2 separate regions of the Homo sapiens genome follow, and region 2 is linked to region 1. Evidence: fine-mapped QTL for protein levels in blood plasma. Region 1 holds a variant in brackets. A gene starts in the other region. All regions are shown on their forward strands. Region 1 overlaps BAZ1B (bromodomain adjacent to zinc finger domain 1B). Region 2 holds the start of F10 (coagulation factor X).

What was found. PIP is the chance, under the fine-mapping model, that this variant and not a neighbour inherited with it causes the effect. Protein levels are from antibody-based Olink assays in UK Biobank. Linkage for the fine-mapping came from a reference panel and not from the study's own genotypes, which makes the PIPs less certain.
Region 2: F10 starts here. The variant in region 1 is fine-mapped to the plasma level of the F10 protein (UK Biobank, PIP 0.98).

What each region holds. Positions count from the first base shown.
Region 1 is chr7:73,457,796-73,470,212 of GRCh38, forward strand. BAZ1B (bromodomain adjacent to zinc finger domain 1B) reads right to left here. Exons shown (of 20, transcript NM_032408.4): 9 at 11,722-11,855; 10 at 8,501-8,606; 11 at 7,644-7,742; 12 at 5,127-5,304; 13 at 1,741-1,923. Among named protein-coding and RNA genes, the nearest start is that of FZD9, 30 kb to the left of the region's middle. The variant T/G (reference allele first, on the strand shown) is at 5,919.
Region 2 is chr13:113,119,143-113,131,559 of GRCh38, forward strand. It overlaps F10 (coagulation factor X), which reads left to right and starts at 3,657. Exons shown (of 8, transcript NM_000504.4): 1 at 3,657-3,783; 2 at 10,310-10,470. The coding sequence starts at 3,714. It overlaps F7 (coagulation factor VII), which reads left to right. Exons shown (of 8, transcript NM_019616.4): 8 at 1-1,543. It overlaps F10-AS1 (F10 antisense RNA 1), which reads right to left and starts at 10,904. Exons shown (of 3, transcript NR_126424.1): 1 at 10,864-10,904; 2 at 9,593-9,735; 3 at 9,013-9,283. It also overlaps the pseudogene KARS1P2. RefSeq lists enhancers at 10,082-10,808, 10,809-11,535.

The DNA.
Region 1 (12,417 bases):
AGGGGAGACTTCGGAGATTAAGCTCTACGAAGATACTGGAACAAGATCTGATCAGCTTCAGGTAACACACTCAGAAGCTGGAAGGAAGGAGTGTTCAGAGAACACGTGAAAGCCCCACGTACCCCTGCTCCGCCACCTTCCTTGTTCCACACGTCTCATCCATCTGGCTGTTCCTGAGTAGTATCCTTCAAAATGACCCGGTTAACCTAAGTAAAATGCTTTCCCGGGTTCTGTCAGGCATTCTAGCAAATTATCATACTTAAGGAGAGGGTCATGAGAATCCTCAATGTATAGATGGTACAGGTGGCAACGTGGGGCTTGCGACTGGCATCTGAAGTGAGAATAGTCTCGTGGGACAGAGCACTTTAACTTGCAGGATCTGACACAAACTCCAAGTAGAAAGAGTCAGAATTAAACTGAATTTTAAGAGTAGTTGGTATCAGCAGAGAACTAGAGAGTTGCTTAGTGTGGTAAAAACCCATGTATTTGGTGTCAGAAGTGTATGAAAAAGTTTTGAAGGCTGATGGTGGTGATGGTTGCAAAACAACGTGAATATACTTAATGCCACAGAATCGAACACATAAAAATGGTAAATTTGGGCTGGACGTGGTGGTTCACACCTGTAATCCTAGTACTTTGGGAGGCTGAGGTGGGCAGATGACCTGAAGTCAGGAGTTCGAGACCAACCTAGCCAACATGGTGAAACCCCGTCTCTACAAAAAATACAAAAATCAGCCAGGCATGGTGGCATGCACCTGCAATTCCAGCTACTTGGGAGGCTGAGGCAGGGGAATTGCTTGAACCTGGGAGGTAGAGGTTGCAGTGAGCTGAGATTATGCCACTACACTCCAGCCTAGGCAAGAGTGGGACTCTTTCTCCAAAAAAAAAAAAAAAAGTAAATTTGTATGTTATGCATATTTTTACCAAAATTTAAAAAATATCTAGAGCAAGCATGGCTGGGCGCAGTGGCTCACGCTTACAATCAAACTTTGAGAGGCCAAGGTGGGAGGATAGCTTGAGGCCAGAAGTTCAAGGTTACAGTGAGTTATAAGCAAATCACCGCATACCAGCTTACACAAGAGCAAAACCCTGTATCTAAAAATTAAATAAACAAATTGTTAATGTGTTTAAAAGTCACCACCACCTTTTTAAAAAAGAAAGTAAACTGGTAGACCAGGAGTGGTGGCTCACGCCTGTAATCCCAGCACATTGGGAGGCCGAAGCGGGTAGATCACAAGGTCAAGAGATCGAGACCACTCTGGCCAACATGGTGAAACCCCGTCTCTACTAAAAAATACAAAAATTAGCTGGGCGTGGTGGCACGCACCTGTAGTCCCAGCTACTCGGGAGGCTGAGGCAGGAGAATCGCTTGAACCTGGGAGGCGGAGGTTGTAGTGAGCTGAGATTGCACCACTGCACTCCAGCCTGGTGACAGAGCGAGACTCCATCTCAAAAAAAAAAAAACAAAAAAAAGAAAGTAAACTCTGGTAAAGGTGGGAAGGCCACATCCACTGTGACCATCACCCAATGACCAAGAAGCAGGGCTGCACTCCACAGGCCAGTGTGAAAACCACAGAAGGGGTAGAAAGTGATTAAAAAAAAAAAAAACACACACACACACAAAAACACTCACTCAGGGCACAGTGCCTATAGCAGCTAAAATGCATAGGGTTAGATTATTTTAAAACCAAATCAACTCATCTACGGAATCATAAACTACAACTTATAACAACAAAATACCTTTGCTTCCTCTACCATTTTCTTCTCTTCATCCACTTCCTCAGTTTTTGCTGAATCTTCACTTTGGAGTTTTCTTCTCTTTTGCTTGGGAGCCATGAAGCCTTGGAGAAATTTCTTTATGACACTGGCCTGAAGGGCAATCACACACTCACCAAAATCCTTCAATTTCTCTAATGAAATGACCTATAGGAAAGGATTTTAAAACCAGACTGAGAAAAGGCCCAGAGGAAGACGAAAGGAATCCAACCTCAAATTCAAATAAATCTAGACTCAAATGCCACATAACATTCATTAAACAAAATCGAGAGCCACATACCATTAATTTAACTGTGCTCCTCAGTTCACTGCATGGCTCATGCATTTAAAAGTACTTGACTGGCCGGGTGCAGTGGCTCACGCCTGTAATCCCAGCATTTTGGGGGGCCAAGGCGGGCGAATCACCTGAGGTCAGGAGTTCAAGACCACTTTGGCCAACATGGCAAAACCCCATCTCTACTAAAAATACAAAAATTAGCCAGGCGTGGTGGCACGTGCCTGTAATCCCAGCTACTCGGGAAGCAGGAGAATCACTTGAACCCGGGAGGAGGAGGTTGCAGTGAGCCAAGATCGTGCTACTGTACTCCAGTCTGGGTGACACAGCGAGACTCCGTCTCAGGGAAAAAAAAAAAAAAAAAAAAAAAAAAGTACTTGACTACTTCCCTTTTCCCAGCTAAGGGATCCACTAAATGGCAGAAGCCCCCCCACATAAAGGAGTTACATAGTTGATTCATTCAATAATGACTGAGTGCCTACTATGTGTAAAATACAATTTTAACGCAAAGACACACTAAGAAAGTAAAATAAAAATTCACTGACTTTCCATCTTAATGTTTTTTTAATTTTTTTCTTATTTCTAACTTGCTTCCAGCATGTAACTAACTATATGTAAGGTAGTATGTTTTACAAACTTGATCTCCTTTTTTTTATTTTTAAAGAGATAGGTCTCACTGGGTCACCCAGGCAGAAGTGCAGCAATCACAACTCACTGCAGCCTTGAACTCCCAGACTCAAGTGATCCTCCTGCCTCAGCCTCCCCATTAGCTGGGACCACAGGTACATGGCATCACGCCTGGCTAATTTTTTAAATTCTTTTTAGAGACAGGGTCTCACTATGTTGCGCAGGCTGGTCTCAAACTCCTGGCCTGAAGCGATCCTCCTGCTTCACTGATCTCTTTTTAAGCTTCACATCTACCTGATAGATGAGGAAACAGAAGTTAAATCACTTCATCAAAATCATGCACCCAGCCAGGTGTGGTGGCACATGCCAGTAGTCCCAGCTACTTGGGAGACTGAGGCAGAAGGAGTTTGAGGCTGCTGTCAGCTATGATCTGTGAATAGCCACTGCACTTCAGACTGGGCAATATAACAAGACCTATCTCTCTCTTTTTTTTTTTGGTTTTTTGTTGTTGTTGTTTTTTGAGACGGAGTTTTGCTCTTGTCGTCCAGGCTGGAGTGCAATGGCGCGATCTCAGCTCACTGCAACCTCCGCCTCCCGGGTTTAAGCGATTCTTCTGCCTCAGCCTCCCGAGTAGCTGGGATTACAGGCATGTGCCACCATACCCAGCTAATTTTTGTATTTTTAGTAGAGACGGGGTTTCTCTATGCTGGTCAGACTGGTCTCGAACTCCCAACCTCAAGTGATCTGCCCACCTTGGCCTCCTAAAGTGCTGGGATTACAGGCGTAAGCCACCGCGCCCGCATGAACAAGACCTATCTCTTAAAAGATCAATTAATTTAAAAATAAAAAGAAAAGAAATAAAAAATGTCCTTAAATACTATCTTGTCAATCACACAAGACATGCCAATTAGAAGATAACGTTTTAATAGTCACAAAGAAAACTAAGAAAAATGACAACCTAACGTCAGCAAGATATAGGCCTGAATTTGGCACAAAGTAGGCAATTAATGAACATTTGCTACACAAAAAAGTAAACATGTAACATCTGAAACCTGCAAGATCCTTTGGGTTCAATAATTCTTTTTAAAAAAATCATTAAGAACCATAAAGATGTTTAAATCCTTTTCCCCAGGAAATGTACCAAGAATTCATCACAAGATTAATTAAAAAGAAAAAATGTGCATATGTAAGATACACATATTATTTGCTTATTCCAATAGCAAAGAAAAACAAGCTAAAATAGTTGAAAAGTACTTATAAATTAGGAAAAATGGCATGGGGGAATGCAAATGAAACTGTTCATAAAAATCACAAAACTATAAGAGCACATATGTTGGCTGGGTGAGGTGGCTCATGCCTATAATCCTAGCATTTTGAGAGGCTGAGGTAGGAGGATCTCATGAAGCCTGGAGTTTGAGATCAGCCAGGGCAACATAGTGAGATTTTGTCTCTACAAAATTTTCCATGTGTTTGTGTGTCAAACAGGGTCTTGCTATGTTGCCCAGGCTGGTCTCGACCTGCTGGGCTCAAGCAATCCTCCTGCCTTAGCCTCCCAAAGTGCTGGGATTATAGGCGTGAGCCAACATGCCCCGTCTCTACAAAAAAATTCTAAAAATCAGCCAGGCATGGTTGCTTGTACCTGCAGTCCCAGCTACCTGGAAACCTGAGATGGGAGAATCACTTAAGCCCAGGAATTTGAGGCTGCAGTGAGCAATGACTGTGCCACTGTACTTCAGCCTGGGTAACAGAGGGGACTTCATTTCTTTAAAAAGAAAAAAAAGACAAAACATCATAGTGCATGAGGAATTTGAAAAGACCCACAAATATTAATATGTCTAGAATTATGTGGACTTATTGATTTAAAATCAGTAAAAAACGGTTTATAATAGTAATTGATGGATACTATTCACCAATCTTTGATACCTAAACCTACCTGTTACGGGGTATGGGATCTTTTGAAAAGTTTCACCTATACCACTTAAGGGTCCCTCTGAGCAATAAAGGACAGGACTGTAATGACAGCACACTGGACAACATGAGTGATGCCCAACATAAATAGAAATCTGAGCTGACTGAGTGTGAAGAATGGGCAAGTGCAGGATATGCAAGCATGTTTCACACCTGAAAGCACAGGCATCGCAAGGTAAAGATGTTAAATGATGCTATACGACTGGAGCCTCTACAACCAGTTTTCATTCACCTTAGTAGTGAAGCTCTTTTCATACCAAGGTTGTAAGCCAATTACTAAGTTTTTCTGGATAGCAGCAAAAGATAACAAGGAAAAAATACATATACATAAGGTATTTTTGGTTCCATACATGTCTTCCAAGACAAATCCAAACATCTGATTTCCAGGAGGGTCATGTTGGGAAGTCAAGAACAGCACCAGGGAAGAACTTCAGATTGAGTTGCCATGAGTAATCTAAGGGGGATTTTCTTATATTCCTACCCGGGCTTCAAATTCTGATGTTTCTTCCACATATCCAAGTCCTCCTTTTTGTAACCTTGTTGCAACTTCAATGAGATCACTACGAAGGAAGTTTAAAAGCTCCTGGTTGCCATCACAAGATTTTAGACCCAAATTTGGCTTCCGTGCTAGATGAATAGAGTGAATAATGTCCTGGTACCTAGAAGATTTGGGACAAGAGAATGGGGAAAGAAACAAACTTTTGAAGATGTTCTTCAAATTTCAATTACTTAACATGTTTTATTTCTAGAAAACTTACTTAGATCTCTTTCACCTCTCCCTGGTGTTTTTTCTTTTTTCTTTTTTTTTTTTTTTTTTCCCCCGAGACAGGGTCTTGCTCTGTCACACAGGCTGGAGTGCAAAGGTGCCATCACAGCTCACTGCACCTTCAAACTTCTGGACTCATGCAATCCTCCAACCTGAGCCTACAGCTGGGACTACAGGAATACCCCTCCACACCTGGCTATATTTTTAATTTTTTGTAGGGATGGGGTCTTGCTATGTTGCCCAGGCTGGTCTCAAACTCCTGATTTCAATTCAAGCGATCCTCTCCCCTAGGCCTCCCAAACTGCTAGGATTACAGGTGTGCACCACCACACCCAGCCACTTCTAAGCTTTTAATGGAAGGATTCGATCTTCATATTTAGTGAACAAAACAGGTCTTTTCAATTCAACACACATAGCTATCAAATGCTCTGCCCAAAGAGAAGGAACATCATAGAACTATATTTCTTTGTGGCTCTGTATACCGACATTTTCCTTTGTCTTTTTTTT[T/G]TTGTTGTTTTTGAGATGGAATGTCGCTCTGTTGCCCAGACTGGAGTGCAGTGGTGCGATCTTGGCTCACTGCAACCTCCACCTCCCGGGTTCAAGCAATTCTCCTGCCTCAGCCTACCTAGTAGCTGGGACTACAGGCACCCGCCACCATGCCTGGCTAATTTTTGTACTTTTAGTAGAGACAGGATTTTGCCATGTTGGCCAGGCTGGTCTCGAACTCCTGACCTTGTGATCCGCCTGCCTCTGCCTCCCAAAATGCTGGGATTACAGGCGTGAGCCACCGCGGCCGGCCCTCCTCTGTCTTTCTTAATTTGCCTAGACACATCTGTATTCAGACAACACAATTCTGAATACAGTTTTACTTAATTTACACATTAAGCAGTGGGCTAACATCAATATAATGTACCTATTGTCCTTCGCAAAAGTCTGGCAATGGTGTAGAGTATGTACTGAATCATATTTTCCTTCTCTCTTCCATCAAACCTAAATTCAACCGTGAAATTGAGCACAGAGTCAGCAATGAGAGGAGGCATTAAGCCAAAATCTTGTCCTGGCTTTGATAGAAATAATGTCTACAACAAATATGGCAGTCGCAAATTTGATGCTACTTTGTAGACAGAACAGGGTTTTTTGATTCTTTTTAATTCATATGACATGAAATTCACCAACTTGAAGCATGTACTTCAGTTTTTTGTTGTAGAACCACACATGTAATTCCAAAACATTTTCATCACCCCAAGCAGGAATCTCTTACCTGTTAGCAATCATCACTCCTATTCTCCCCTTCCCCTATCCTCTGGCAACCACTAATCCACTTTCTGTTTGAAATAGATTTGCCTATTCTAAGATGTTTCATTTGAATGGAATCATACACCACATGGCCTTTGATGTCTGACTTCTTTTGCTTAGCATGTTTTCTAGGTTCATTCATGTTGTAGCACAGAACAGTACTTCATTTCTTTTTGTGGCTAAATAATATTCCACTATTTGAATATACTAAATTTTGGGGGTTTTTTGTTTCATTTTGTATGAGACAGCATCTCGCTCTCTCACCCAGGCCAGAGTGCAGGGGCATGATCTTGGCTCAATGCAACCTCCGCCTCCTGGGCTCAAGTGATCAACTCAGCTCAGCCTCCCAAGTAGCTAAGACTACATACACAAACCACCACACCCAAGATAATTTTTGTTTTGTTTTTTTTTTTCAGAAACGGAGTTTCCCTATGTTGCCCAGGCTGGTCTCAAAACTCCTGGATGCAAGACACTGGCCTGCCTTTACCTCTCAAAGTGCCGGGATTACAGGTGTGAGCCACCGCACAAGGCCTGGATATATACTAACTTTTATTTATCCGTTCCATCAGTTGATAGTCATTGCCGTTGTTTCCACCTTTTGGCTCTTCTGAATATTGATAGAATACTTCTGGACACCCACCCATCTGGGCCTCCATCTGCAAAGCTGTCTGACAACCATGAGGCTCACAGCTTGGTGCTGGCAACTGTTCTTTAGTGCATAATAATCCTGCTACTCTATATATAGATGGCCAAAGGTATATTTTTCCAATAAGCATAATATGCCAAGAAAATACCAGGCAATATGAACACAAAACGGTTACACATTTAAAATATTTTACTTTAGTAACTTAAATGGATAAGAAAAAAAACCCTCAGATATTTATATCCAATGCTAAAGAGAAGTAAGATGTGAGGAGTAAGATGAAAACCTCTTACCTCTTCTCTAGTCTCTCTTTAAGTTGACTTTCTCTTATTCCCTGAGGGTGAAGACAGTTTAGCAACTCATCCAGCTCCTTTTGACTATCACATAAAAACCTGTAGGGGCAAAAGAGACCTGATAACTCTGAAAAAAAAAAAAAAATTCAAAATCAAACACTAAGCAAGGGATCTAGAGTTGGTGGTGGGACTTGGGAGAACAGAATTCCAAATGTGTTCACAATCTACTATCTAGAAGTAGAATAAGTAATTTACTATTTTCATGATGCCTAATGTTAATTCTGTACTAGGACACCAGAGCCAATATGGTTCCTATTAAAATATTATATGAAATTTTATAAAGTTAATTGGCATACTTGTCCCTTTCCCTCCAGAGAGTAAACCTATACCCAAAATTCAAAAATGAAAGGTCATTAAATCACAGGTGATCACAGTTAAAGCCGTAGAATGGATCCTCTAAAACCTAGCTCGCTGCCTAAAAGCAGAAATGCGCATAAAGGAAACGAATAGCTATGCATACAATTTGTTAATTAATAAAATTTAAGGAAAATCTTAAATACTTCTATTCCCAACCAAATTTAAGCTACATTTCTACTGCTATATAAGATCTATCACATAATATACAAAGTTATATTACAGGGGGGAAAAAATCAAAATTCCAACCCTTAAAAAAACAAGTATCTTCTTAACAAAAAATCAGGTCTGCTAATGCAAGAAGTTTTGATATCCAAAATATCAGTCACACAAAGTATCCTGCGCAAATAATTATTAACTCACTGGCATCACTATACTAAATACTTTCTTCCTTAACAATTAAAAGGAAAAAGAAAGAGCAACCAGATGAATGCTCACATTACCATAGGTTCTGTCCTTGTTTGGGTGTGGTTGTCTCTACAGCAACTTCTGTTGCTGTTCCATGTTGTGTGTTCATGCTTGCATTTTTACCTAAGTTTGCTTTCTTACCTAAGAAAAATTGAGACATTAGGTTGACTTTAGTAAATACCCAATTGCTAGTTTCAAATCTAAGCAGTACACAGTGCCAAACTCAACAATTTGTAACAACACAGATACTTCCTGTGAAATATATCAAATATATCTTCATGTATAAAAGATGCTAATTTCTCTTAAATATCTTAAACACAGCATGTTATCTCAGATATTTGCTCTCTGAAGTGGAATCGTTACACAGTTCCAAAGTTTAGGGGTACTGCAACTTAGAATGAAGAATGACTAAATATCTTTATATCAAAGCAAAATAAAGAATTTACTCCTTTTACATGATGTTAAGAGCAAAGGCATCTGTAGTGAAGCAGAGGTAATGAGAACATATAAATACTATAGACTTATCCTTGGAGGCTTCAAGTGTCAAATAATACAACTAACTTTTTTGTAAATCAGTTCCTATATACTGATACGTGACTTTAACATAGATATATCTTGAGCCAATTTATCAAAGCCTATCTTAGATCATCACAATATTTGGTTTTTTGTTTTGTTTCGTTTTGTTTTTTGAGATAGAGTCTCGCTCTGTCGCCCAGGCTGGAGTGCAGTGGTACAATCTCAGCTCACTGAAACCTCTGCCTCCCAGGTTCATGCAATTCTCCCTGCCTCAGACTCCCGAGTGGCTGGGATTACAGGCACACACCAACACACCTGGCTAATTTTTCTATTTTTAGTAGAGATGGGGTTTCACCATGTTGGCCAGGCTGGTCTCCAACTCCTGACCTCAGGTGATCCGCCCGCCTTGGCCTCCCAAGTGCTGGGATTACAGGTGTGAGCTACCACGCCCGGCCAGTCACCACAATATTTGAAGCCTTACCTCATACTATGATTGTTTATCTTCTCTTTCCCATTCTCCCCACTTTAACCTGAAACATCTCTGCAATACTAACACATAACTTTGTTTAGTCTTTTCAATTGGGTAATTTATTTATTTTTTTTAATTTTTTGAGACAGAATGTTGCTCTGTCACCCAGGCTGCAGTGCAGTGGCGCAATCTTGGCTCACTGCAACCCCTGCCTCCTGGGCTTAAACAATTCTCTTGCCTCAGCCTGCCAAGTAGCTGGGATTACAGGTGCCCGCCACCACACCCGGCTAATTTTTGTGTTTTTTGTAGAGACGGGGTTTCGCCATGTTGGCCAGGCTGGTCTTTTAACTCTTGAGCTCAAGTGATCCGCCTGCCTCAGCCTCCCAAAGTGCTGGGATTATAGGCATCAGCCACTGCATCCAGCCTCAGTTGGGTAATTTTAAATAAAAACTGCCATTCTAGAACTGGAAAACACGAAACAACATCCACCAGGATGCTCTAGAAGTGAAGGGTCTGGCTCCCCAATCTTGTCTCGGGGACACATTATAAAGTAACACTCCTTCATCCCACTGGAATCTCTTCCAAATCTAAACATCCAGGCTCCACAGTTACTGCTCTCAAACCTAACTGCCCTCACCTGAGTATTTATGAAGTCTAACGAAACCAGATTCTTCTATAAAGTGACATAATCTATGCTCGATATAATTCAACATGCAAACACCTTAAATCTGAAGTTTTATTTGAAGGAATGTTTATTTTTGTAAATCAGTATTATTCTTATTTAACAATTTTGTGAGTTTCAAGCTTGAGTTAGGAATTTCTCTAAAATGAATTACTTTTTAAAAAATAAAGATTTATCGAAGAAGCACAATAACCTAGTACTCAGGAAGCAACTTCTTTTATTTCTTTATCTCCCACATGACACCAACACATAAGCAATTTTCATTAGGTTACAGACAGCAGAGCTGAAAGAAGCTTATGGATCATTTAACCTAGTGGTTCTCGAAAGGGAGCACTGCTGCCTGCCACATGTATCTGGCAGGATTTAGAGACATACTTGGTTTTCACTGCTACCACCTAGTGGGTAGAGGGGAGCTCCCGAATAACCTATAATGCACAGGACAGCTCCCAGTACAAAAAACTATCTTCCTCATCAGTGTCATGGTGGGAGGAAAAAAAAAAAGATTCATCTAGCCCAAAATGTCAGTAACACTGAGGTTGAGAAAACCTGACCTAACCTAACCATCTTATTTTTTTAATTAAAATTTGTTTTATTTCTTTCTTGAAATATACTCAATACATACACTTTAAGAAAGAATATGGATATATATTCAGAAAACTATTCAGTGTGTGTTTCTTTTACAAACTGAACACATATACCCGGCACCCAGATCAAGAGAAAGAATATTACCAGTGTCCCTACATGATCCCCTCTCAGTCACTCATTTTTCGTTAGGTATTTGCCATGTTTCTCCTCACAAGAATTTTAAGAACCTTATCTGTCTTGTTTGCTGCTATACCCCTAGCGTATGACAAACTGCTTCACAAATAGAGATTCAGCATAAACACTGAATAAATTAATTTTAAAAGTAGAAGAAGAGGGTCAGGTGCAGTGGCTCACACTTGTAATCCCCAGCACTTTGGGAGGCCGAGGTGGGCAGATCACCTGAGGTCAGGAGTTTGAGACCAGCTTGGCCAACATGGCGAAACCCCGTCCCTACAAAAAATACAAAAATTAGCCAGATGTGGTGGCACACACCTGTAGTCCCAGCTACTCGGGAGACTGAAGTAGGAGAAGTGTTTGAACCCAGGAGGTGGAGGTTGCAGTGAGCCGAGATCACGCCATTGCTCTCCAGCCTGGGCAACAAGAGTGAAATTCCGTCTCAAAAAAAAAAAAAAAAAGAAGAAGAAGAAGAGGACATCTAACACTGCCCTTCTTAGACCCCATACCTCAATTTCAGCCCTTGAGGCACCTACAAAGGCTTCCAAGGGACAAAGTTTGAAAACTGCTCCTATAAAAGCTAATACCCAAATATCCTCATATTCAAGCTCTTCATCTTCTCACACTATGCTTAGAACAAAGGTGGTAATCAAACGTGGGTTTCTCTCCTTCTTTCTACACATTTCACATCTACCTACTTCACTCAAATAGATCTAAGACCACAATAAAGAAATTCTGCAAATGGAAAACGTGACAGAGGAAAAGCAGTCCTTAATGTTGAGCCCACTTGAGCAGGGTGAAATAACTCTTAGATATACAGATATACTCACTGCGAGGACAGTAATCCTCATCACCAGAGACTGTGTGGTCTTTGCAGTGATGGTTGAATCGGTAGTCAATGCTGTCATGTACCCAGCCTTTTTCAATGAATAATCCTGGAACTTCATCTGAGAAGAGCCAGTATCTACAAATCACAACCAGTATTAATAAGACAGTGAATAGATCAGGATTGCAGGATGATTTTACTGCTGGAGAAGATAATACAGAGTATCACTGAGCATTCAAAACCACAGTTTACAGAATTCTTCCTCTTCAGAACTCTAGACAGATAAAAATTGCAAGGTAAATCAAAGTATACGAGAAATGTTGAAACTGGAGACTAGCTTAATGTTCGTAATTTGTATAATTTCTTTCTTTTTTAAATTGAAATGGGGTCTCGCTATGTTGGCCGGGCTGGTCTTGAACTCCTGGCCTCAAGCAATCCTCTCGACTCAGCCTCCCAAAGTGTAGGATTACAGGTGTGAACCACCACGCCCAGCCCTAATTTGTGTAACTACTAATATTTCTCCTTTAGGTTTCACAAAATGTATGTATTTAAAACCTACTGCCATTTTTAAAGACTTGGATTACATTTCACCTATCACCATCATGTAAGCTTCCTACTTGTGGTATATGCAAGGGCAGGAATATGTCTTACTTAACTTTGCAACTCTAGCATTTGGCAGTTAATATTCAATAATCATCAA
Region 2 (12,417 bases), not on the chromosome of region 1:
AGACAGAAACAGAGAGAGACAGAGACAGAGAGAGACTGAGGGAGAGACTCTGAGGACATGGAGAGAGACTCAAAGAGACTCCAAGATTCAAAGAGACTAATAGAGACACAGAGATGGAATAGAAAAGATGAGAGGCAGAGGCAGACAGGCGCTGGACAGAGGGGCAGGGGAGTGCCAAGGTTGTCCTGGAGGCAGACAGCCCAGCTGAGCCTCCTTACCTCCCTTCAGCCAAGCCCACCTGCACGTGATCTGCTGGCCTCAGGCTGCTGCTCTGCCTTCATTGCTGGAGACAGTAGAGGCATGAACACACATGGATGCACACACACACACGCCAATGCACACACACAGAGATATGCACACACACGGATGCACACACAGATGGTCACACAGAGATACGCAAACACACCGATGCACACGCACATAGAGATATGCACACACAGATGCACACACAGATATACACATGGATGCACGCACATGCCAATGCACGCACACATCAGTGCACACGGATGCACAGAGATATGCACACACCGATGTGCGCACACACAGATATGCACACACATGGATGAGCACACACACACCAATGCGCACACACACCGATGTACACACACAGATGCACACACAGATGCACACACACCGATGCTGACTCCATGTGTGCTGTCCTCTGAAGGCGGTTGTTTAGCTCTCACTTTTCTGGTTCTTATCCATTATCATCTTCACTTCAGACAATTCAGAAGCATCACCATGCATGGTGGCGAATGCCCCCAAACTCTCCCCCAAATGTATTTCTCCCTTCGCTGGGTGCCGGGCTGCACAGACTATTCCCCACCTGCTTCCCAGCTTCACAATAAACGGCTGCGTCTCCTCCGCACACCTGTGGTGCCTGCCACCCACTGGGTTGCCCATGATTCATTTTTGGAGCCCCCGGTGCTCATCCTCTGAGATGCTCTTTTCTTTCACAATTTTCAACATCACTGAAATGAACCCTCACATGGAAGCTATTTTTTAAAAACAAAAGCTGTTTGATAGATGTTTGAGGCTGTAGCTCCCAGGATCCTGTGGAATTGGATGTTCTCTCCCTGCCACAGCCCTTGTCAATGATATTTCACAGAGACCCTGGGAGCACCTGCTCAAGAGTCAGGGACACACGCATCACTAAATGCAAGTTCCCAGGCCCTGGCTGCAGTGGGAGGACCTGGCAAGCTGCACTCTTGCTGAGTCCCCAGGGTGGTGGAAGAAGAATGAGAAACACATGAACAGAGAAATGGGGAGGTGACAAACAGTGCCCCCACTCAGACTCCGGCAAGCACGGCTCAGAGAGTGGACTCGATGCCATCCCTGCAGGGCCGTCCTGGGCACCACTGGCACTCACAGCAGCAAGGTGGGCACCATTGGCACTCACAGCAGCAAGGCAGGCACCAGCAACCCACCTCGGGGGCACTCAGGCATCATCTACTTCAGAGCAGACAGGGTCTATGAACTACAGCCGTGGGCTGCTTCCAAGGCACCCTGCTCTTGTAAATAAAGTTTTATGGGAACACACCCATATTAGTGTCCATGGAGTGGCCGTGGCAGAGACGTCCAGCCGGACAGACCAGCTGACCCGCCAAGCCCAGCATGGTTAGTGTCAGGACCTCTGCTGAAGATGCTTGCTGACCCTGGCCAGACCCCGGTTCCTAATGCCCCCTAAACGGGACGGGAGCCAGTGGCGGGCCCTGATCCAGGTCAGAGCTGGCTCTGCTTTCTCTTTTGTCCGAGTGACCATGCCTCAGTTTCCTCATGTGTAAAACAGGAGCCCACCGTGATGCTTATGGTGGGATGAGATCAGCATGGATGGAACAAGGCCCTGGAAGGGCCCATGCCATGGTCATCGACAGCAAAGCCACTCTGCAGACAGATGCTTCAGTGAATTGGTAGAAAATTCTGCAACCAGAATGCCCGGGGCTCCTGAGGGCCTAAGCCCAGCCCAGGGTTCTGGAAGCCACTCTGACTTCTTGGGAGTGGAAGTTGGCAGGACTCTTCCTGGGAAGAAGCGGAGGGTGGGGATGAGAGGACAGTTCAGGAGCCCACCCAGACCCACAGGAGGAAACTAGGGGAGTCATGCGGGGTCCTGGTGGAGCGCCAGCCTCCCTTCCTGCCAATGGGAAATGCAGGCGCCCACCTCATGGTGCTGCCGGAGGAGGGGGCCCGGGACTCCCCAGAGGCTTCGCTGAAGGGCCTGGGCGCCCCCAAAGGCTACATGTTTCATATGGGACGTGCCACCTGCCACGGCTCAGCTCCAGCTTTCTGTGAGTGGCGAGATAGAATACGGGGAGGCCACTGGCCATGGGCCTGGGACAGGGTGGGATGAGGCGGCAGGCTTGGGCCACCAAAGCCAGCATCGCCACCCAGCATTGATGACAAAGACTGCGTGTCTGCCATGAGCATCCTGCTGTTGGTGCACACACCGCATTGGTCTCTCCATACAAACATGCCTAGAGGCGATGTCAGAGGGTGGAGACCAGGAGAGGCAGGAGTCAGACATCTGGTGCCACCAGGAAGGCCCTTCTCAGAGGACCAGGCTGTGCGTGGTGCCCGCCGTGGGAGGCCAGCCTGGCGTTGGCATCCAGCATCATCAGTTTGTGCAGTCGGGTGGGGCTCAGTGAGTGCCTCCTGTGTGCCAGGCACAATGACGCACAATGTGTGCACACCAGGCTCATGTGCAGGTGGCTGCGAGACAGGGCGACCCATCAAGGCAGATGCACCATGAGGCAGTGGCCAGTGCTGTGGGTGTTAGGGGCATTGCTCCCCGGCCACTACGGCATAGCAGGCAGTGATCGCCACACTGGCCAAGCTTTAGACCATTTATTCCAGAGACCCCAGAGGCAAAAAGCCCGGCTGCACCTCCCAGTGACTCCCACAGCCATTGAGCAGAGACACTCAGGACCTTGTGATGGGAGGTTTCTGCACTGGAGAACGAGCCCAGAAGCCCTCTCAGCCTCGGAACAGTGTGGCCAGTGGTGGGCAGGTCAGGAGGGGCTTCAGACACAGCCTGTCCCTCCAGATGGTCACGGGAAGGTCACTCCCCACAGAAGTACGTTTTGGGGCCATGCGGGCACAGAAGGTTTGGGGGTGGGTGGGGCAGGTGCCAGCCTGGCCTGTGGGAGGCCATGGTGCAGATGCCAAGCCCCCCCCGTGACATGAGACCACCTGATACCACCCAGAGAGTGGCTGTGAGCGGAAGGGCCCGCCCAGAAACAAGCAGGGCCTTGGGGCAGAAGTCCTGGGCTCAGATCCCACGCTCACTGCCAGCGGCCTCGGCTCAGGCTTCTGCGCTCTCTAAACTTAGTTTTCTCTTCTGGAAAAATGATGGGGAAAATGATATTTGTATGTGAGGACTGAGAGTTAAATGTAAACATCTGGAAACTACAAAATGAGCACGAAATGATGTTTTTATTCTTAGAACAGAAAGTCCCCACACCCGCGGCCCTGGTGACTGATGAGGATGAGGTTCTGCGGGGCCTCTCTGGCCGCCCAGCTCTGCCTGGGGAAGGTGGGGCCAGAGTGGATGTGTTCCCAGCGTGGTCACTCCCCTGCCTCGCCAGCAGGTCTCGGCTCCAATCAGGAGGCCTAAGCCAAGTGATAAGCAGCCAGACAACAGCCATCCCAGCTGGGGCGTGGACTTTGCTCCAGCAGCCTGTCCCAGTGAGGACAGGGACACAGTACTCGGCCACACCATGGGGCGCCCACTGCACCTCGTCCTGCTCAGTGCCTCCCTGGCTGGCCTCCTGCTGCTCGGGGAAAGTCGTAAGTGCCCCTCGCCCTTCAGACCCAAAAGCAGCGCCAGGGAGCAGGGAGGGGCGGCAGTTGGGGAAACCCTCTCATCTCTGCAGCCTGGACGGTGGGTGCCTTGAGTGCTGCCAGAGGCTGGGCTCGGATGGCTGGGCTTGGCCTTTCCAGCCAACGGCATCCTCAAGGCCAGCTGTGGCTCCCTGGGGCTGAGAGTCAGACGGGCGGATCAGAGGTCACAGAGACAAAAACACAAGGACAGAGTCAGAGAGAGAAAGGGAGAGGGAAGGAGAAACGGAGACACAGTGAGATGGGAGGCCAAGAGGCAGAGACAGAGGTAGAAAGACGGAGACAGAGAGAGAGGGAGGGGTTGGGGCAGGCAGAGACAGGACAGTTAGCCATCTGCCACCACAGGGAGGCACAGGACGAGGGGCACAGCAGAGGAGCTCCCAGGGAGGAGGAGGCTGAGCCGAGCCAGTGCCACCACTCTCGGACTGGCTCCGTCGGGGAAGGAGCTGCCTAATGCACAGCTGGACAGGTGGGGGCAGCAGGGCTGTCCAGGACCCCCGGGTCTGTCCAAAAGCAGAGGCCCAGACAGGACAGAAGCCAGGCAAGCCTGGGGACAGCGGAGGAAGAGGAGGCCCCTCTGGTGGGGACACGAGAGACAGGGACCCTAGACTTGTTTGCATCCTGGACAAAGTGGACAGGCAGGGGCACCAAGGGGACCCAGGCCTGGGAAGGGAATGTGTGAGGGAGAGACGGAGCAGGGGGAGACCCTCGTGGGGTGGAAAGGGGAGACCCCTGGGAAGGCTGAGTGGATCCTCAGTGCATCACTGACCTAAACGGCCCCTCCGCCTGGTGACTTGGAGCTCCAGTCACATCACACGGGGGTCTTCTCCATCCCACCCTCAACCCCCTGCCCTCCCCAGCCTCTGTCCCCTGAGCCACATCTTCCTGTCTCCCACGCGGAACGGGACTCCCGTCTTCATGGGGTACTGTGTGGCTCCAACTCGCCCAGCCTTCTTCCTCCCCCTCAGGCCACACTGCCCCCTGCAGGAGCCCACTGTGATGCTTGTGGTGGGATGAGATCAGCGTGGGTGGAACAAGGCCCTGGAAGGACCCATGCCATCATCATCGACAGCAAAGCTACTCTGCAAACAGACAGATGCTTCCGCGAATTGGTAGAAAATTCTGCAGCCGGAATGCTCTAGGATCCTGAGGCCCTAAGCCCGGCCCGGGGCTCCCGAGGCCCTAAGCCCGGCCCGGGACTCTGGAAGCTGCTCTGGCTTATTGGGAATGGAAGTTGGCAGGACTCCTCTTCCTGGGAAGAAGCAGAGGGTGGGGATGAGAAGACAGGCCAGGAGCCCACCCAGACCCACAGGAGGAAACTAGGGGAGTTATGCAGAGTCCTGGTGGAGCGCCAGCTTCCCTTCCTGCCAATGGGAAATGCAGGCGCCCACCTCGCGGACCTCTGGGTCCACAGGGTATTGGCACCCTTAGCTGTGTGATGCGGGCCTGGCTCATAACCATGGCCTGTGGTGTCCCCGGGGGCCGGCCTGGACCCTGGGTGGACATGGCCAGCCCCGGAGAGCCAGGGCCAGGCCATCTCTCTCCCCTACTCTGCCTCAGAGGCCTCGGCAGCTGCACTGTGGGGTGGGTGGGGCTGAACACAGGTCCCAGAAGGTCCCACTCAGGACCCTGCTGTGCACACTTTTGATTTTAATAAAATCAGAATGCGCACAGCATCTGCAGTCTAGCCTTTAAACGAGCACAGCTGTCCTGGCAGTCACGGAAGTTCTTCTGGGGCGGTGGGACCTCAGCATTCCTTTGCTGGTACTGCTACAAGAAAGGACAATGGACCAAGTAGCTTAAAGCAACAGAAACATTTCTCCCACAGCTCTGGAGGCTGGAAGTTCAAAATCAAGGCGTCAGCGGGGCTGGTTCCTCCAGAGGCTGGGAGAGAGTCTGCTCTAGGCCTGTTTCCTGGCCTCGGGGTGCCAGCGGCCTCACAGCCCATGGCTTGTGGGAGCATTGCTCCCATCGCTGCCTCCATCATCGCATGGGGTTCTCACCATGGCTGTTTTTCTGTCTTCTTTTCTCTCAGAAGGACACCAGTCATTGGATTTAGGGCTCACTCTACTCCCATAAAATGTCTTCCTAACTAAATACATCACAAAAGTTCTATTTCCAATTAAGGTCAGGTTCTGAGGTTCTGGGAAAGACATGAATTTGGAGGGACATTATTCAGCCCTGTCCTGCCACCTGTGAGTGTTTTCTGCAATCCAACTTTTTATTTTAATAAAATCAGAATACGCAGAGCACCTGCAGTGCCAGCCTTTAAACTACTGCTGTTGTACTGGCAATCATTAAAGCTACGTGGCTTCAGTTTCAATCTTTACATTCAACAAGTTTAAACCCATTCTTCATGAGTTTGGACCTTACTGACTGAAAATTTTGCTTGCTGGTAAAACTTGCTCAAATGCAGTTGCTGACTGTGGAATTCACTGATGTTGCCAAAACAACAAACACAACTGTGTGCTCGAGGATTGCAATGCTCCCAACAGCTTCTGAAGAAACAAACCACACGACAAATGTCTACCAATCTGGATGCTCCATATCAGAGTTCTAGAGTGTTCCATTAATTTCTTGAGACAAGTGCCTAAAAACCTTGTTTTAATTTCGTTTTGCCAAAATCCCATTTTACTCACATCAGAAAGTGTGGCCACGTGGCCCAGACCCGGCCTGCTCAGTCTGACTGAAGCGTTGATGCGACTCAGCCATAACAGATAGCAGAAGCGCCCAGATTCAGTCCAGAGGGCTGAGCCAGGCACGCCATCTTTCCTTCATTCCCTCAACACATATTGGTTAAGTTCCGGCCGTGCTAGGCACGGGCATACAGCTGTGACCAAACACGTCAAGTCTTTTTCCAGCGGAGGGAAGGATAAGCCTGTCAGCATGTAATGTCAGAGAGGGGTTGGGTGCTAGAAGACAAATAGCACAGTGTAAGGGGATGAAAGAGACACGAGTGGGGGCAACGTCAGAGGGCGTGGTCAGGGAGGGTGTCTCGGAGGGCGCTGGGCCTGAGCCACTTGGGTATCTGTGGAAAGAATGTTCCAGACAGGGAGGTGACTGGTGCAAAAGTCCTGGGGTGTGAGTGTTGGGCTCAGCCAGGGTCAGCGCAGAGCCCAGTGTGGCAGAGAGAGGTGAATGAGGGCAGAGTTGAAGGTGGTGAGGCCTGGGAGGCCTGGCCATGGGAAGACCCTGGGCTCTGTTCTAAGACCACTAGAGGCAGATTCTGGGTAGTCCTTGACTTCCTTGCATCACCCTTTCCACCCCGTGCCTGCCACCTGTACCCTCTTCCTCACACAGTCCAGCTCAACCTTATAGGCCGTGTCCTACCCCCATGAGCTGGGGAGAGCTGAGCAGGCTTCAGGGAGATGGGAAAAGGCGGGAACTGGACAGGGGCTGCAAAGGAAAGGTGACTTCTTACTGGTCAATCAGCCTGGGGATGCTCGGGGGTGGATGCCAAGGGGAACAGAGCTGTGGCCGCTATCACAGAACAGCGAGTTCCTCTAAGAGGTCAGAGGAGGCGCAAGGGATCGACCAGAGACAGTGAGGGCGTCAGGCTCCAGTTGAGTGGGGACCAATCCTTGTGGCAAGTCTGTGAACCATCACTGTGGCTCTAGGGTAGCAGAGAAAAAAGCAGGCATATGTCCATCTGGCCACAAGGAAGGAGACCAAGGGGAAGAGAGAAGGTACCAAGAGAGGTGTTCACATGGAGGTGCGTCAGAACACCGAGGGCAAGGCAGAACGCGGTCTTCAGACCCCAACTGGAGCCCAGGAGGCCCGCGAGTCCCAGTTTGGGAAACACTAAGCCAGGCTTGGATAACTTGTCTGAGGCTGTGGTCATCCCAACATGAGAGCCAGAGGCCCCAAGGGAGATGGGCATTCCCCACCCCTCAGCTTCCTCAGTGCCTTTTGTGGAGTGGAGGTGACATGAGGCTGCAGGTTGCAGGGAGCCACGTGTGGGCTGCATTTCAGAGCAAGTGTGTGGGAGTGGAGCAGACACGCAGAGTAATGGGGCAGGGTCAAGAAATAATAAATCTAAGTCTAGCGTTGGTGGGATAATGTCGGTGTCACTAAAAGAAATGGGGAATTTGGAAGGTAAAGTAACTGGAGGTAGGAATGAACCCAAGATTTACTAAGCACCTTCTGTATACCAAACTCAACACTAGGAGTTTATACAATCTTTAAAACAGCTCTAAGAGTAGATATTATAATTCCCTTCTGCCAATAATAAATAATAAGTGACTAAGGTGTTTTTGAAGCTCAAGATTGCTTGATTCTGCAGTCTTGTTTTAAATTTTGGACATGGAGAGTTTGGAGTTCTGAGATGAGGGAAGGCATCTGTCATAGTGAGAGAGCTGAAAACATGGAGCTCAGGACAAAAGTCAGTGCTAGAGAGATCAGTTGGAAGAGTTATCTTTATTGTAGTGAGACATTGAATTTTTCAGTGGAAAAAAAGCACAGAAAAAGACTACAGAGGGCCAAGAAAAGAAACTGAGGCTGTCAAAATGAAAAGAGGAGGAGGAGTGGGTGAGAGACAAAGGAGACACAGGCAGAGAGATGTGGACAGCACAGCCCACAGACACACACTCTACAAGGGACACAGACTCTCGGATCCAGGGCATTTTAACCAGCAGATCAAGACTCATTTGCCAGTCATGAAATCAACTCAGTATTTTTTTTTAAAAGAGTAGAATCAAATAGAAAACTTTGTACTAAGTACTGTATTTTAGGAAATACTAATAAATACTATTTCTTGAAAGTTGGCATGTATGTGTGTCCTGGCACTTCATAAATTGTACTATTATAGTTTGTAATTGAAACAGCATCACCAATCCCCACATAACAAAGAGCAGAGACCTTAAAGACGAGTGGGGCCAGGCTGAAGGGGCACAGCTTGAGCCAAAGCACAGAACAGTGGGCTGAAAGCACCCTAGGGAGGGAGAATTCAAGGAAGGGGGCTTGGGTGGCCAGGCTGAGCCAGCGTGAGCATGTGAGGAGGCTGGTGAGCTGATTGGGTGGGATGTGTCTACTTCTCCAGAGAAGGGTGCATGGGTCTAGAGCAGGTGCCTCATGCTGTACCTCATAGAGAACTGGGGGGAGGGGGGAAATGGGCATTTCCCTCCACAGCCCCCAAAGTGCCTGAGGAAAGTGTTGATAAAGAAGCCAAACTCTGTAAAATATTTGAAGAGATTTATTCTGAGCCAAATGTGAGGACCACGACCCATGACACAGCCTTGGAAGGTCCTGAGAACATGTGTCCAAGGTAGTTGGGTCACAGCTTGATTTTATGTATTTTAGGGGGACAGAAGTTACATACAGACACCAATCAATAAGCATAAGTTGTACACTGGTTCGTTCCAGAAAAGGGGAAGGTGGGGGCTTCCAGGTCATAGGTGGCTTCAAAGATATTCTGATTGGCAATCAGTTGAAAGAGTTATTATCTAAAGACCTGGAATAAATGGAAAGGAGTATCTGGGTTAAGATAAGAGGTTGTGGAGACCAAGGTTCTTGTTATGTAGATGAAGACTCATAGGTGGCCACCCTTAGAGGGAATAGATGGCAACTGTTTCCTCTTCAGACCTTTAAAAGGTGCTACACACATGGCCAGGCGCCTTGGCTCATCCTGTAATCCCAGCACTTTGGGAGGCTGAGGCAGGTGGATCACTTAAGGTCAGGAGTTCAAGACCAGCCTGGCCAACATGGTGAAACTCCATCTCTACTAAAAATACAAAAATTAGCCGGGTGTGGTGGTGCTTGCCTGTAGTTTCAGCTACTCGGGAGGCTGAGACAGTAGAATCTCCTCCTGAGGCAGGACAATGGCTTGAACCTGGGAGGCAGATGTTGCAGTGAGCTGAGATTGTGCCATTGCACTCCAGCCTGGATGACAGAGCAAAACACCATCTTAAAGAGAAAAAAAAAAAAAAAAAAAAAAAAAGGTGCTAGACTCTCAGCTCAGAAAAAGACCTGGAATGGTAAGGGGGTTCTCTACAGAATGTGGATTTCCCTGAGATAGCTTTGCAGGGCCATTTCAAAATATGTCAAACAAATACAATTTGGAGTAAAATCATTTATTTTAGGGCCTGCTATATGTCATGTGATCCTATACTAGAGAAGTCAGGTTGGAAACTGGTATCTTATTGCTACAAAGACTCTGTTTGGTCAGCCTCAAGGTCTCTTAACGTGAATGCTGGTCAGCTGTGCCCGAATTCCAAAGGAAGAAATAATGAGGCGTGTGGGACCTGCTTCCCCTCATGGCCTCAACTAGTCTTTCAGGTTCCTATGGAATTCCCTTGGCAGAGAGGACGGGTCCACTCAGTGAGTTGGGGGCTTAGAATTTTATTTTTGGTTTACAAGAGAGTGATCCGCCTTTTGTGATCTGGATATGGCAAGGGACATGGCAGTCAGGGAGCATAGGTGAGGGGGAGCCTGGGTGAGGGTGACCAGAGCTTTTAACCCTGTCCTCCCTGCCTTCCAGTGTTCATCCGCAGGGAGCAGGCCAACAACATCCTGGCGAGGGTCACGAGGGCCAATTCCTTTCTTGAAGAGATGAAGAAAGGACACCTCGAAAGAGAGTGCATGGAAGAGACCTGCTCATACGAAGAGGCCCGCGAGGTCTTTGAGGACAGCGACAAGACGGTAAGGGCTGGGGATAGCCTGGCTGTTGGTAAGGAGCTCAGGCCACAGCGCCCTCGCTGGCCCCGCTGCTCCGTCCATCCAGGGGGGCGGCCTGGAGGAAGGGGCAGCGTGCGCGAAGGCTTTCAGGGGCGGGGCCCAGCAAATCGAGGCCTCGGCGGAGTCCTGCCCACAGGGACATCAGTGCCGCCCCCGCGCTGACTCCTTCCCGGCGAGGACTCAGCGGGGAGGGATGCGCCCAAGTCCCTTGAGGGTCACAGGGCTTCTGCCAGAGTTAAGTTCTATTTAAAAATAAAATGTTAACCTAAAAACCAATAGTCATGGTCTCGGCCAGCGCCTCGCCGAGTTGCAGTGAGCTGAGATCGTGCCCTCCCACGCCCGCAGCCCGCGTCCTGCCTTGGCCTCCGTAGTCGCTGAGAGCCACAGCCTAGAGCGCCAGCGCGCAGGCGCACAACTGACGCCAGGCCACGAACCCAGTACTGCTCCTGCACAGCAGAAGCACTAGCACTGAGGCCGGGCGGCGAACCCGGCACTGCGCCTGCGCAGCAAAAGGACACGCACTGAGGCCAGGCCGCGAACCCAGCACGGTGCCTGCGCAGCAGGAAGACCGGCATCCACACCGGACGACGAACCCAGCATCGCGCCTGCGCAGTAGGAGGAGAGCAATGCCACCAGGCCGCGATTGCGCAGCCGCAGCAGCCCCGCGCGGAAGACGCTACCCTCCTCTCCCCCGAAGAGGCGGGGCTTCGAACGAACCTGGAAATGGCCGAGGGGTCTCGACTTCCTCACCCCAGGCATCAGGAAAGGTGCCTGCAGGACAGGGCTCTGAAGTGGAAGTGGGCGGTGGTGATGCCGAACTGACAAGAATGAGCTGAAGAGAAGAAAGTAGCCGAGAAGGGGGCCAAGCCGGAGCTCAGTGAGCAACAGCTAGGCCAGCCGCGGCTGGTGCCATCAGCCACACCACTAACTGTGGACCCAAATGGAAACTTTGAGGCCCCTTACAGGTCCCCCAGCGCAGGCCACCGCCGAAGGTTACTGGGGAAGACCCCTGCAGCTTCCATGTGGACATTACTCGCTTGCTTCATCCCGGAGTGCAGTCACCTGCAGCCTGGGACCACCTGACTGATGTCACCCTGGAGATCCATGCCAAAAGAGCTGGGGAAAGTTCACCTTCTAATGACCCCTGCGGACCAGGGTGAAGTTACAAGTTATGGCCAGGTCAAGGAATTATAAGTCAATAAATAAACTGCCTCAGGGAGACGTACTCAGAGTCCAGGAAAATCTAGGAAACACCAAGAAGGGCGAGCGCAGCATCAGCCCCTGCAAAATTGCACTGCTGCCTCCTGGCTCACATGTTGCCCCATCCTTACTTTAGCCTCAAAGGCAAGGAGACCCAATATTATTTGAGTACTTGGATTTGATCCTGAGTGACTTTCTGAGAAAGCAGTGTATCATCTGCCCTAAGATCACCACATATATGACAAGGTTTTTGGATGAGTTGAGATTTCTAGACATTGAAACCCTCATGATGAACGTCATCCCGGGTAGCAGGGGCTAAGCCTTTCATCACCTGCTACAACAAGCTGGACATTAACTTGTATTTGAGAATTGCTCCAGGACTCTACCTTCAGATGCTGGTTAGTAGCATTGACTGGATTTATGAAATTGGATGCCAGTTAAGGAATAAGAGAATGTATTTGATTTGCCACCCTATATGGTCTGTGCAGACTGTCATGATCTCATTGAAATCCAAGAAAAGATTATGTCAGGGATGAAGCACATCACAGGTGGTTACAAGGTCACCCACCATCCAGATGGCTCAGAAAGCCAAACCTATGGGTTGACTTCTCCTCACCCTTCTGGAGAATCAGTGTGGTAGAAGAGCTTGAAAAAGTGCTGGGTGTGACGCTGCCAGAAACTAACCTCTTTGGAACTGAAGAAACTCAAAAA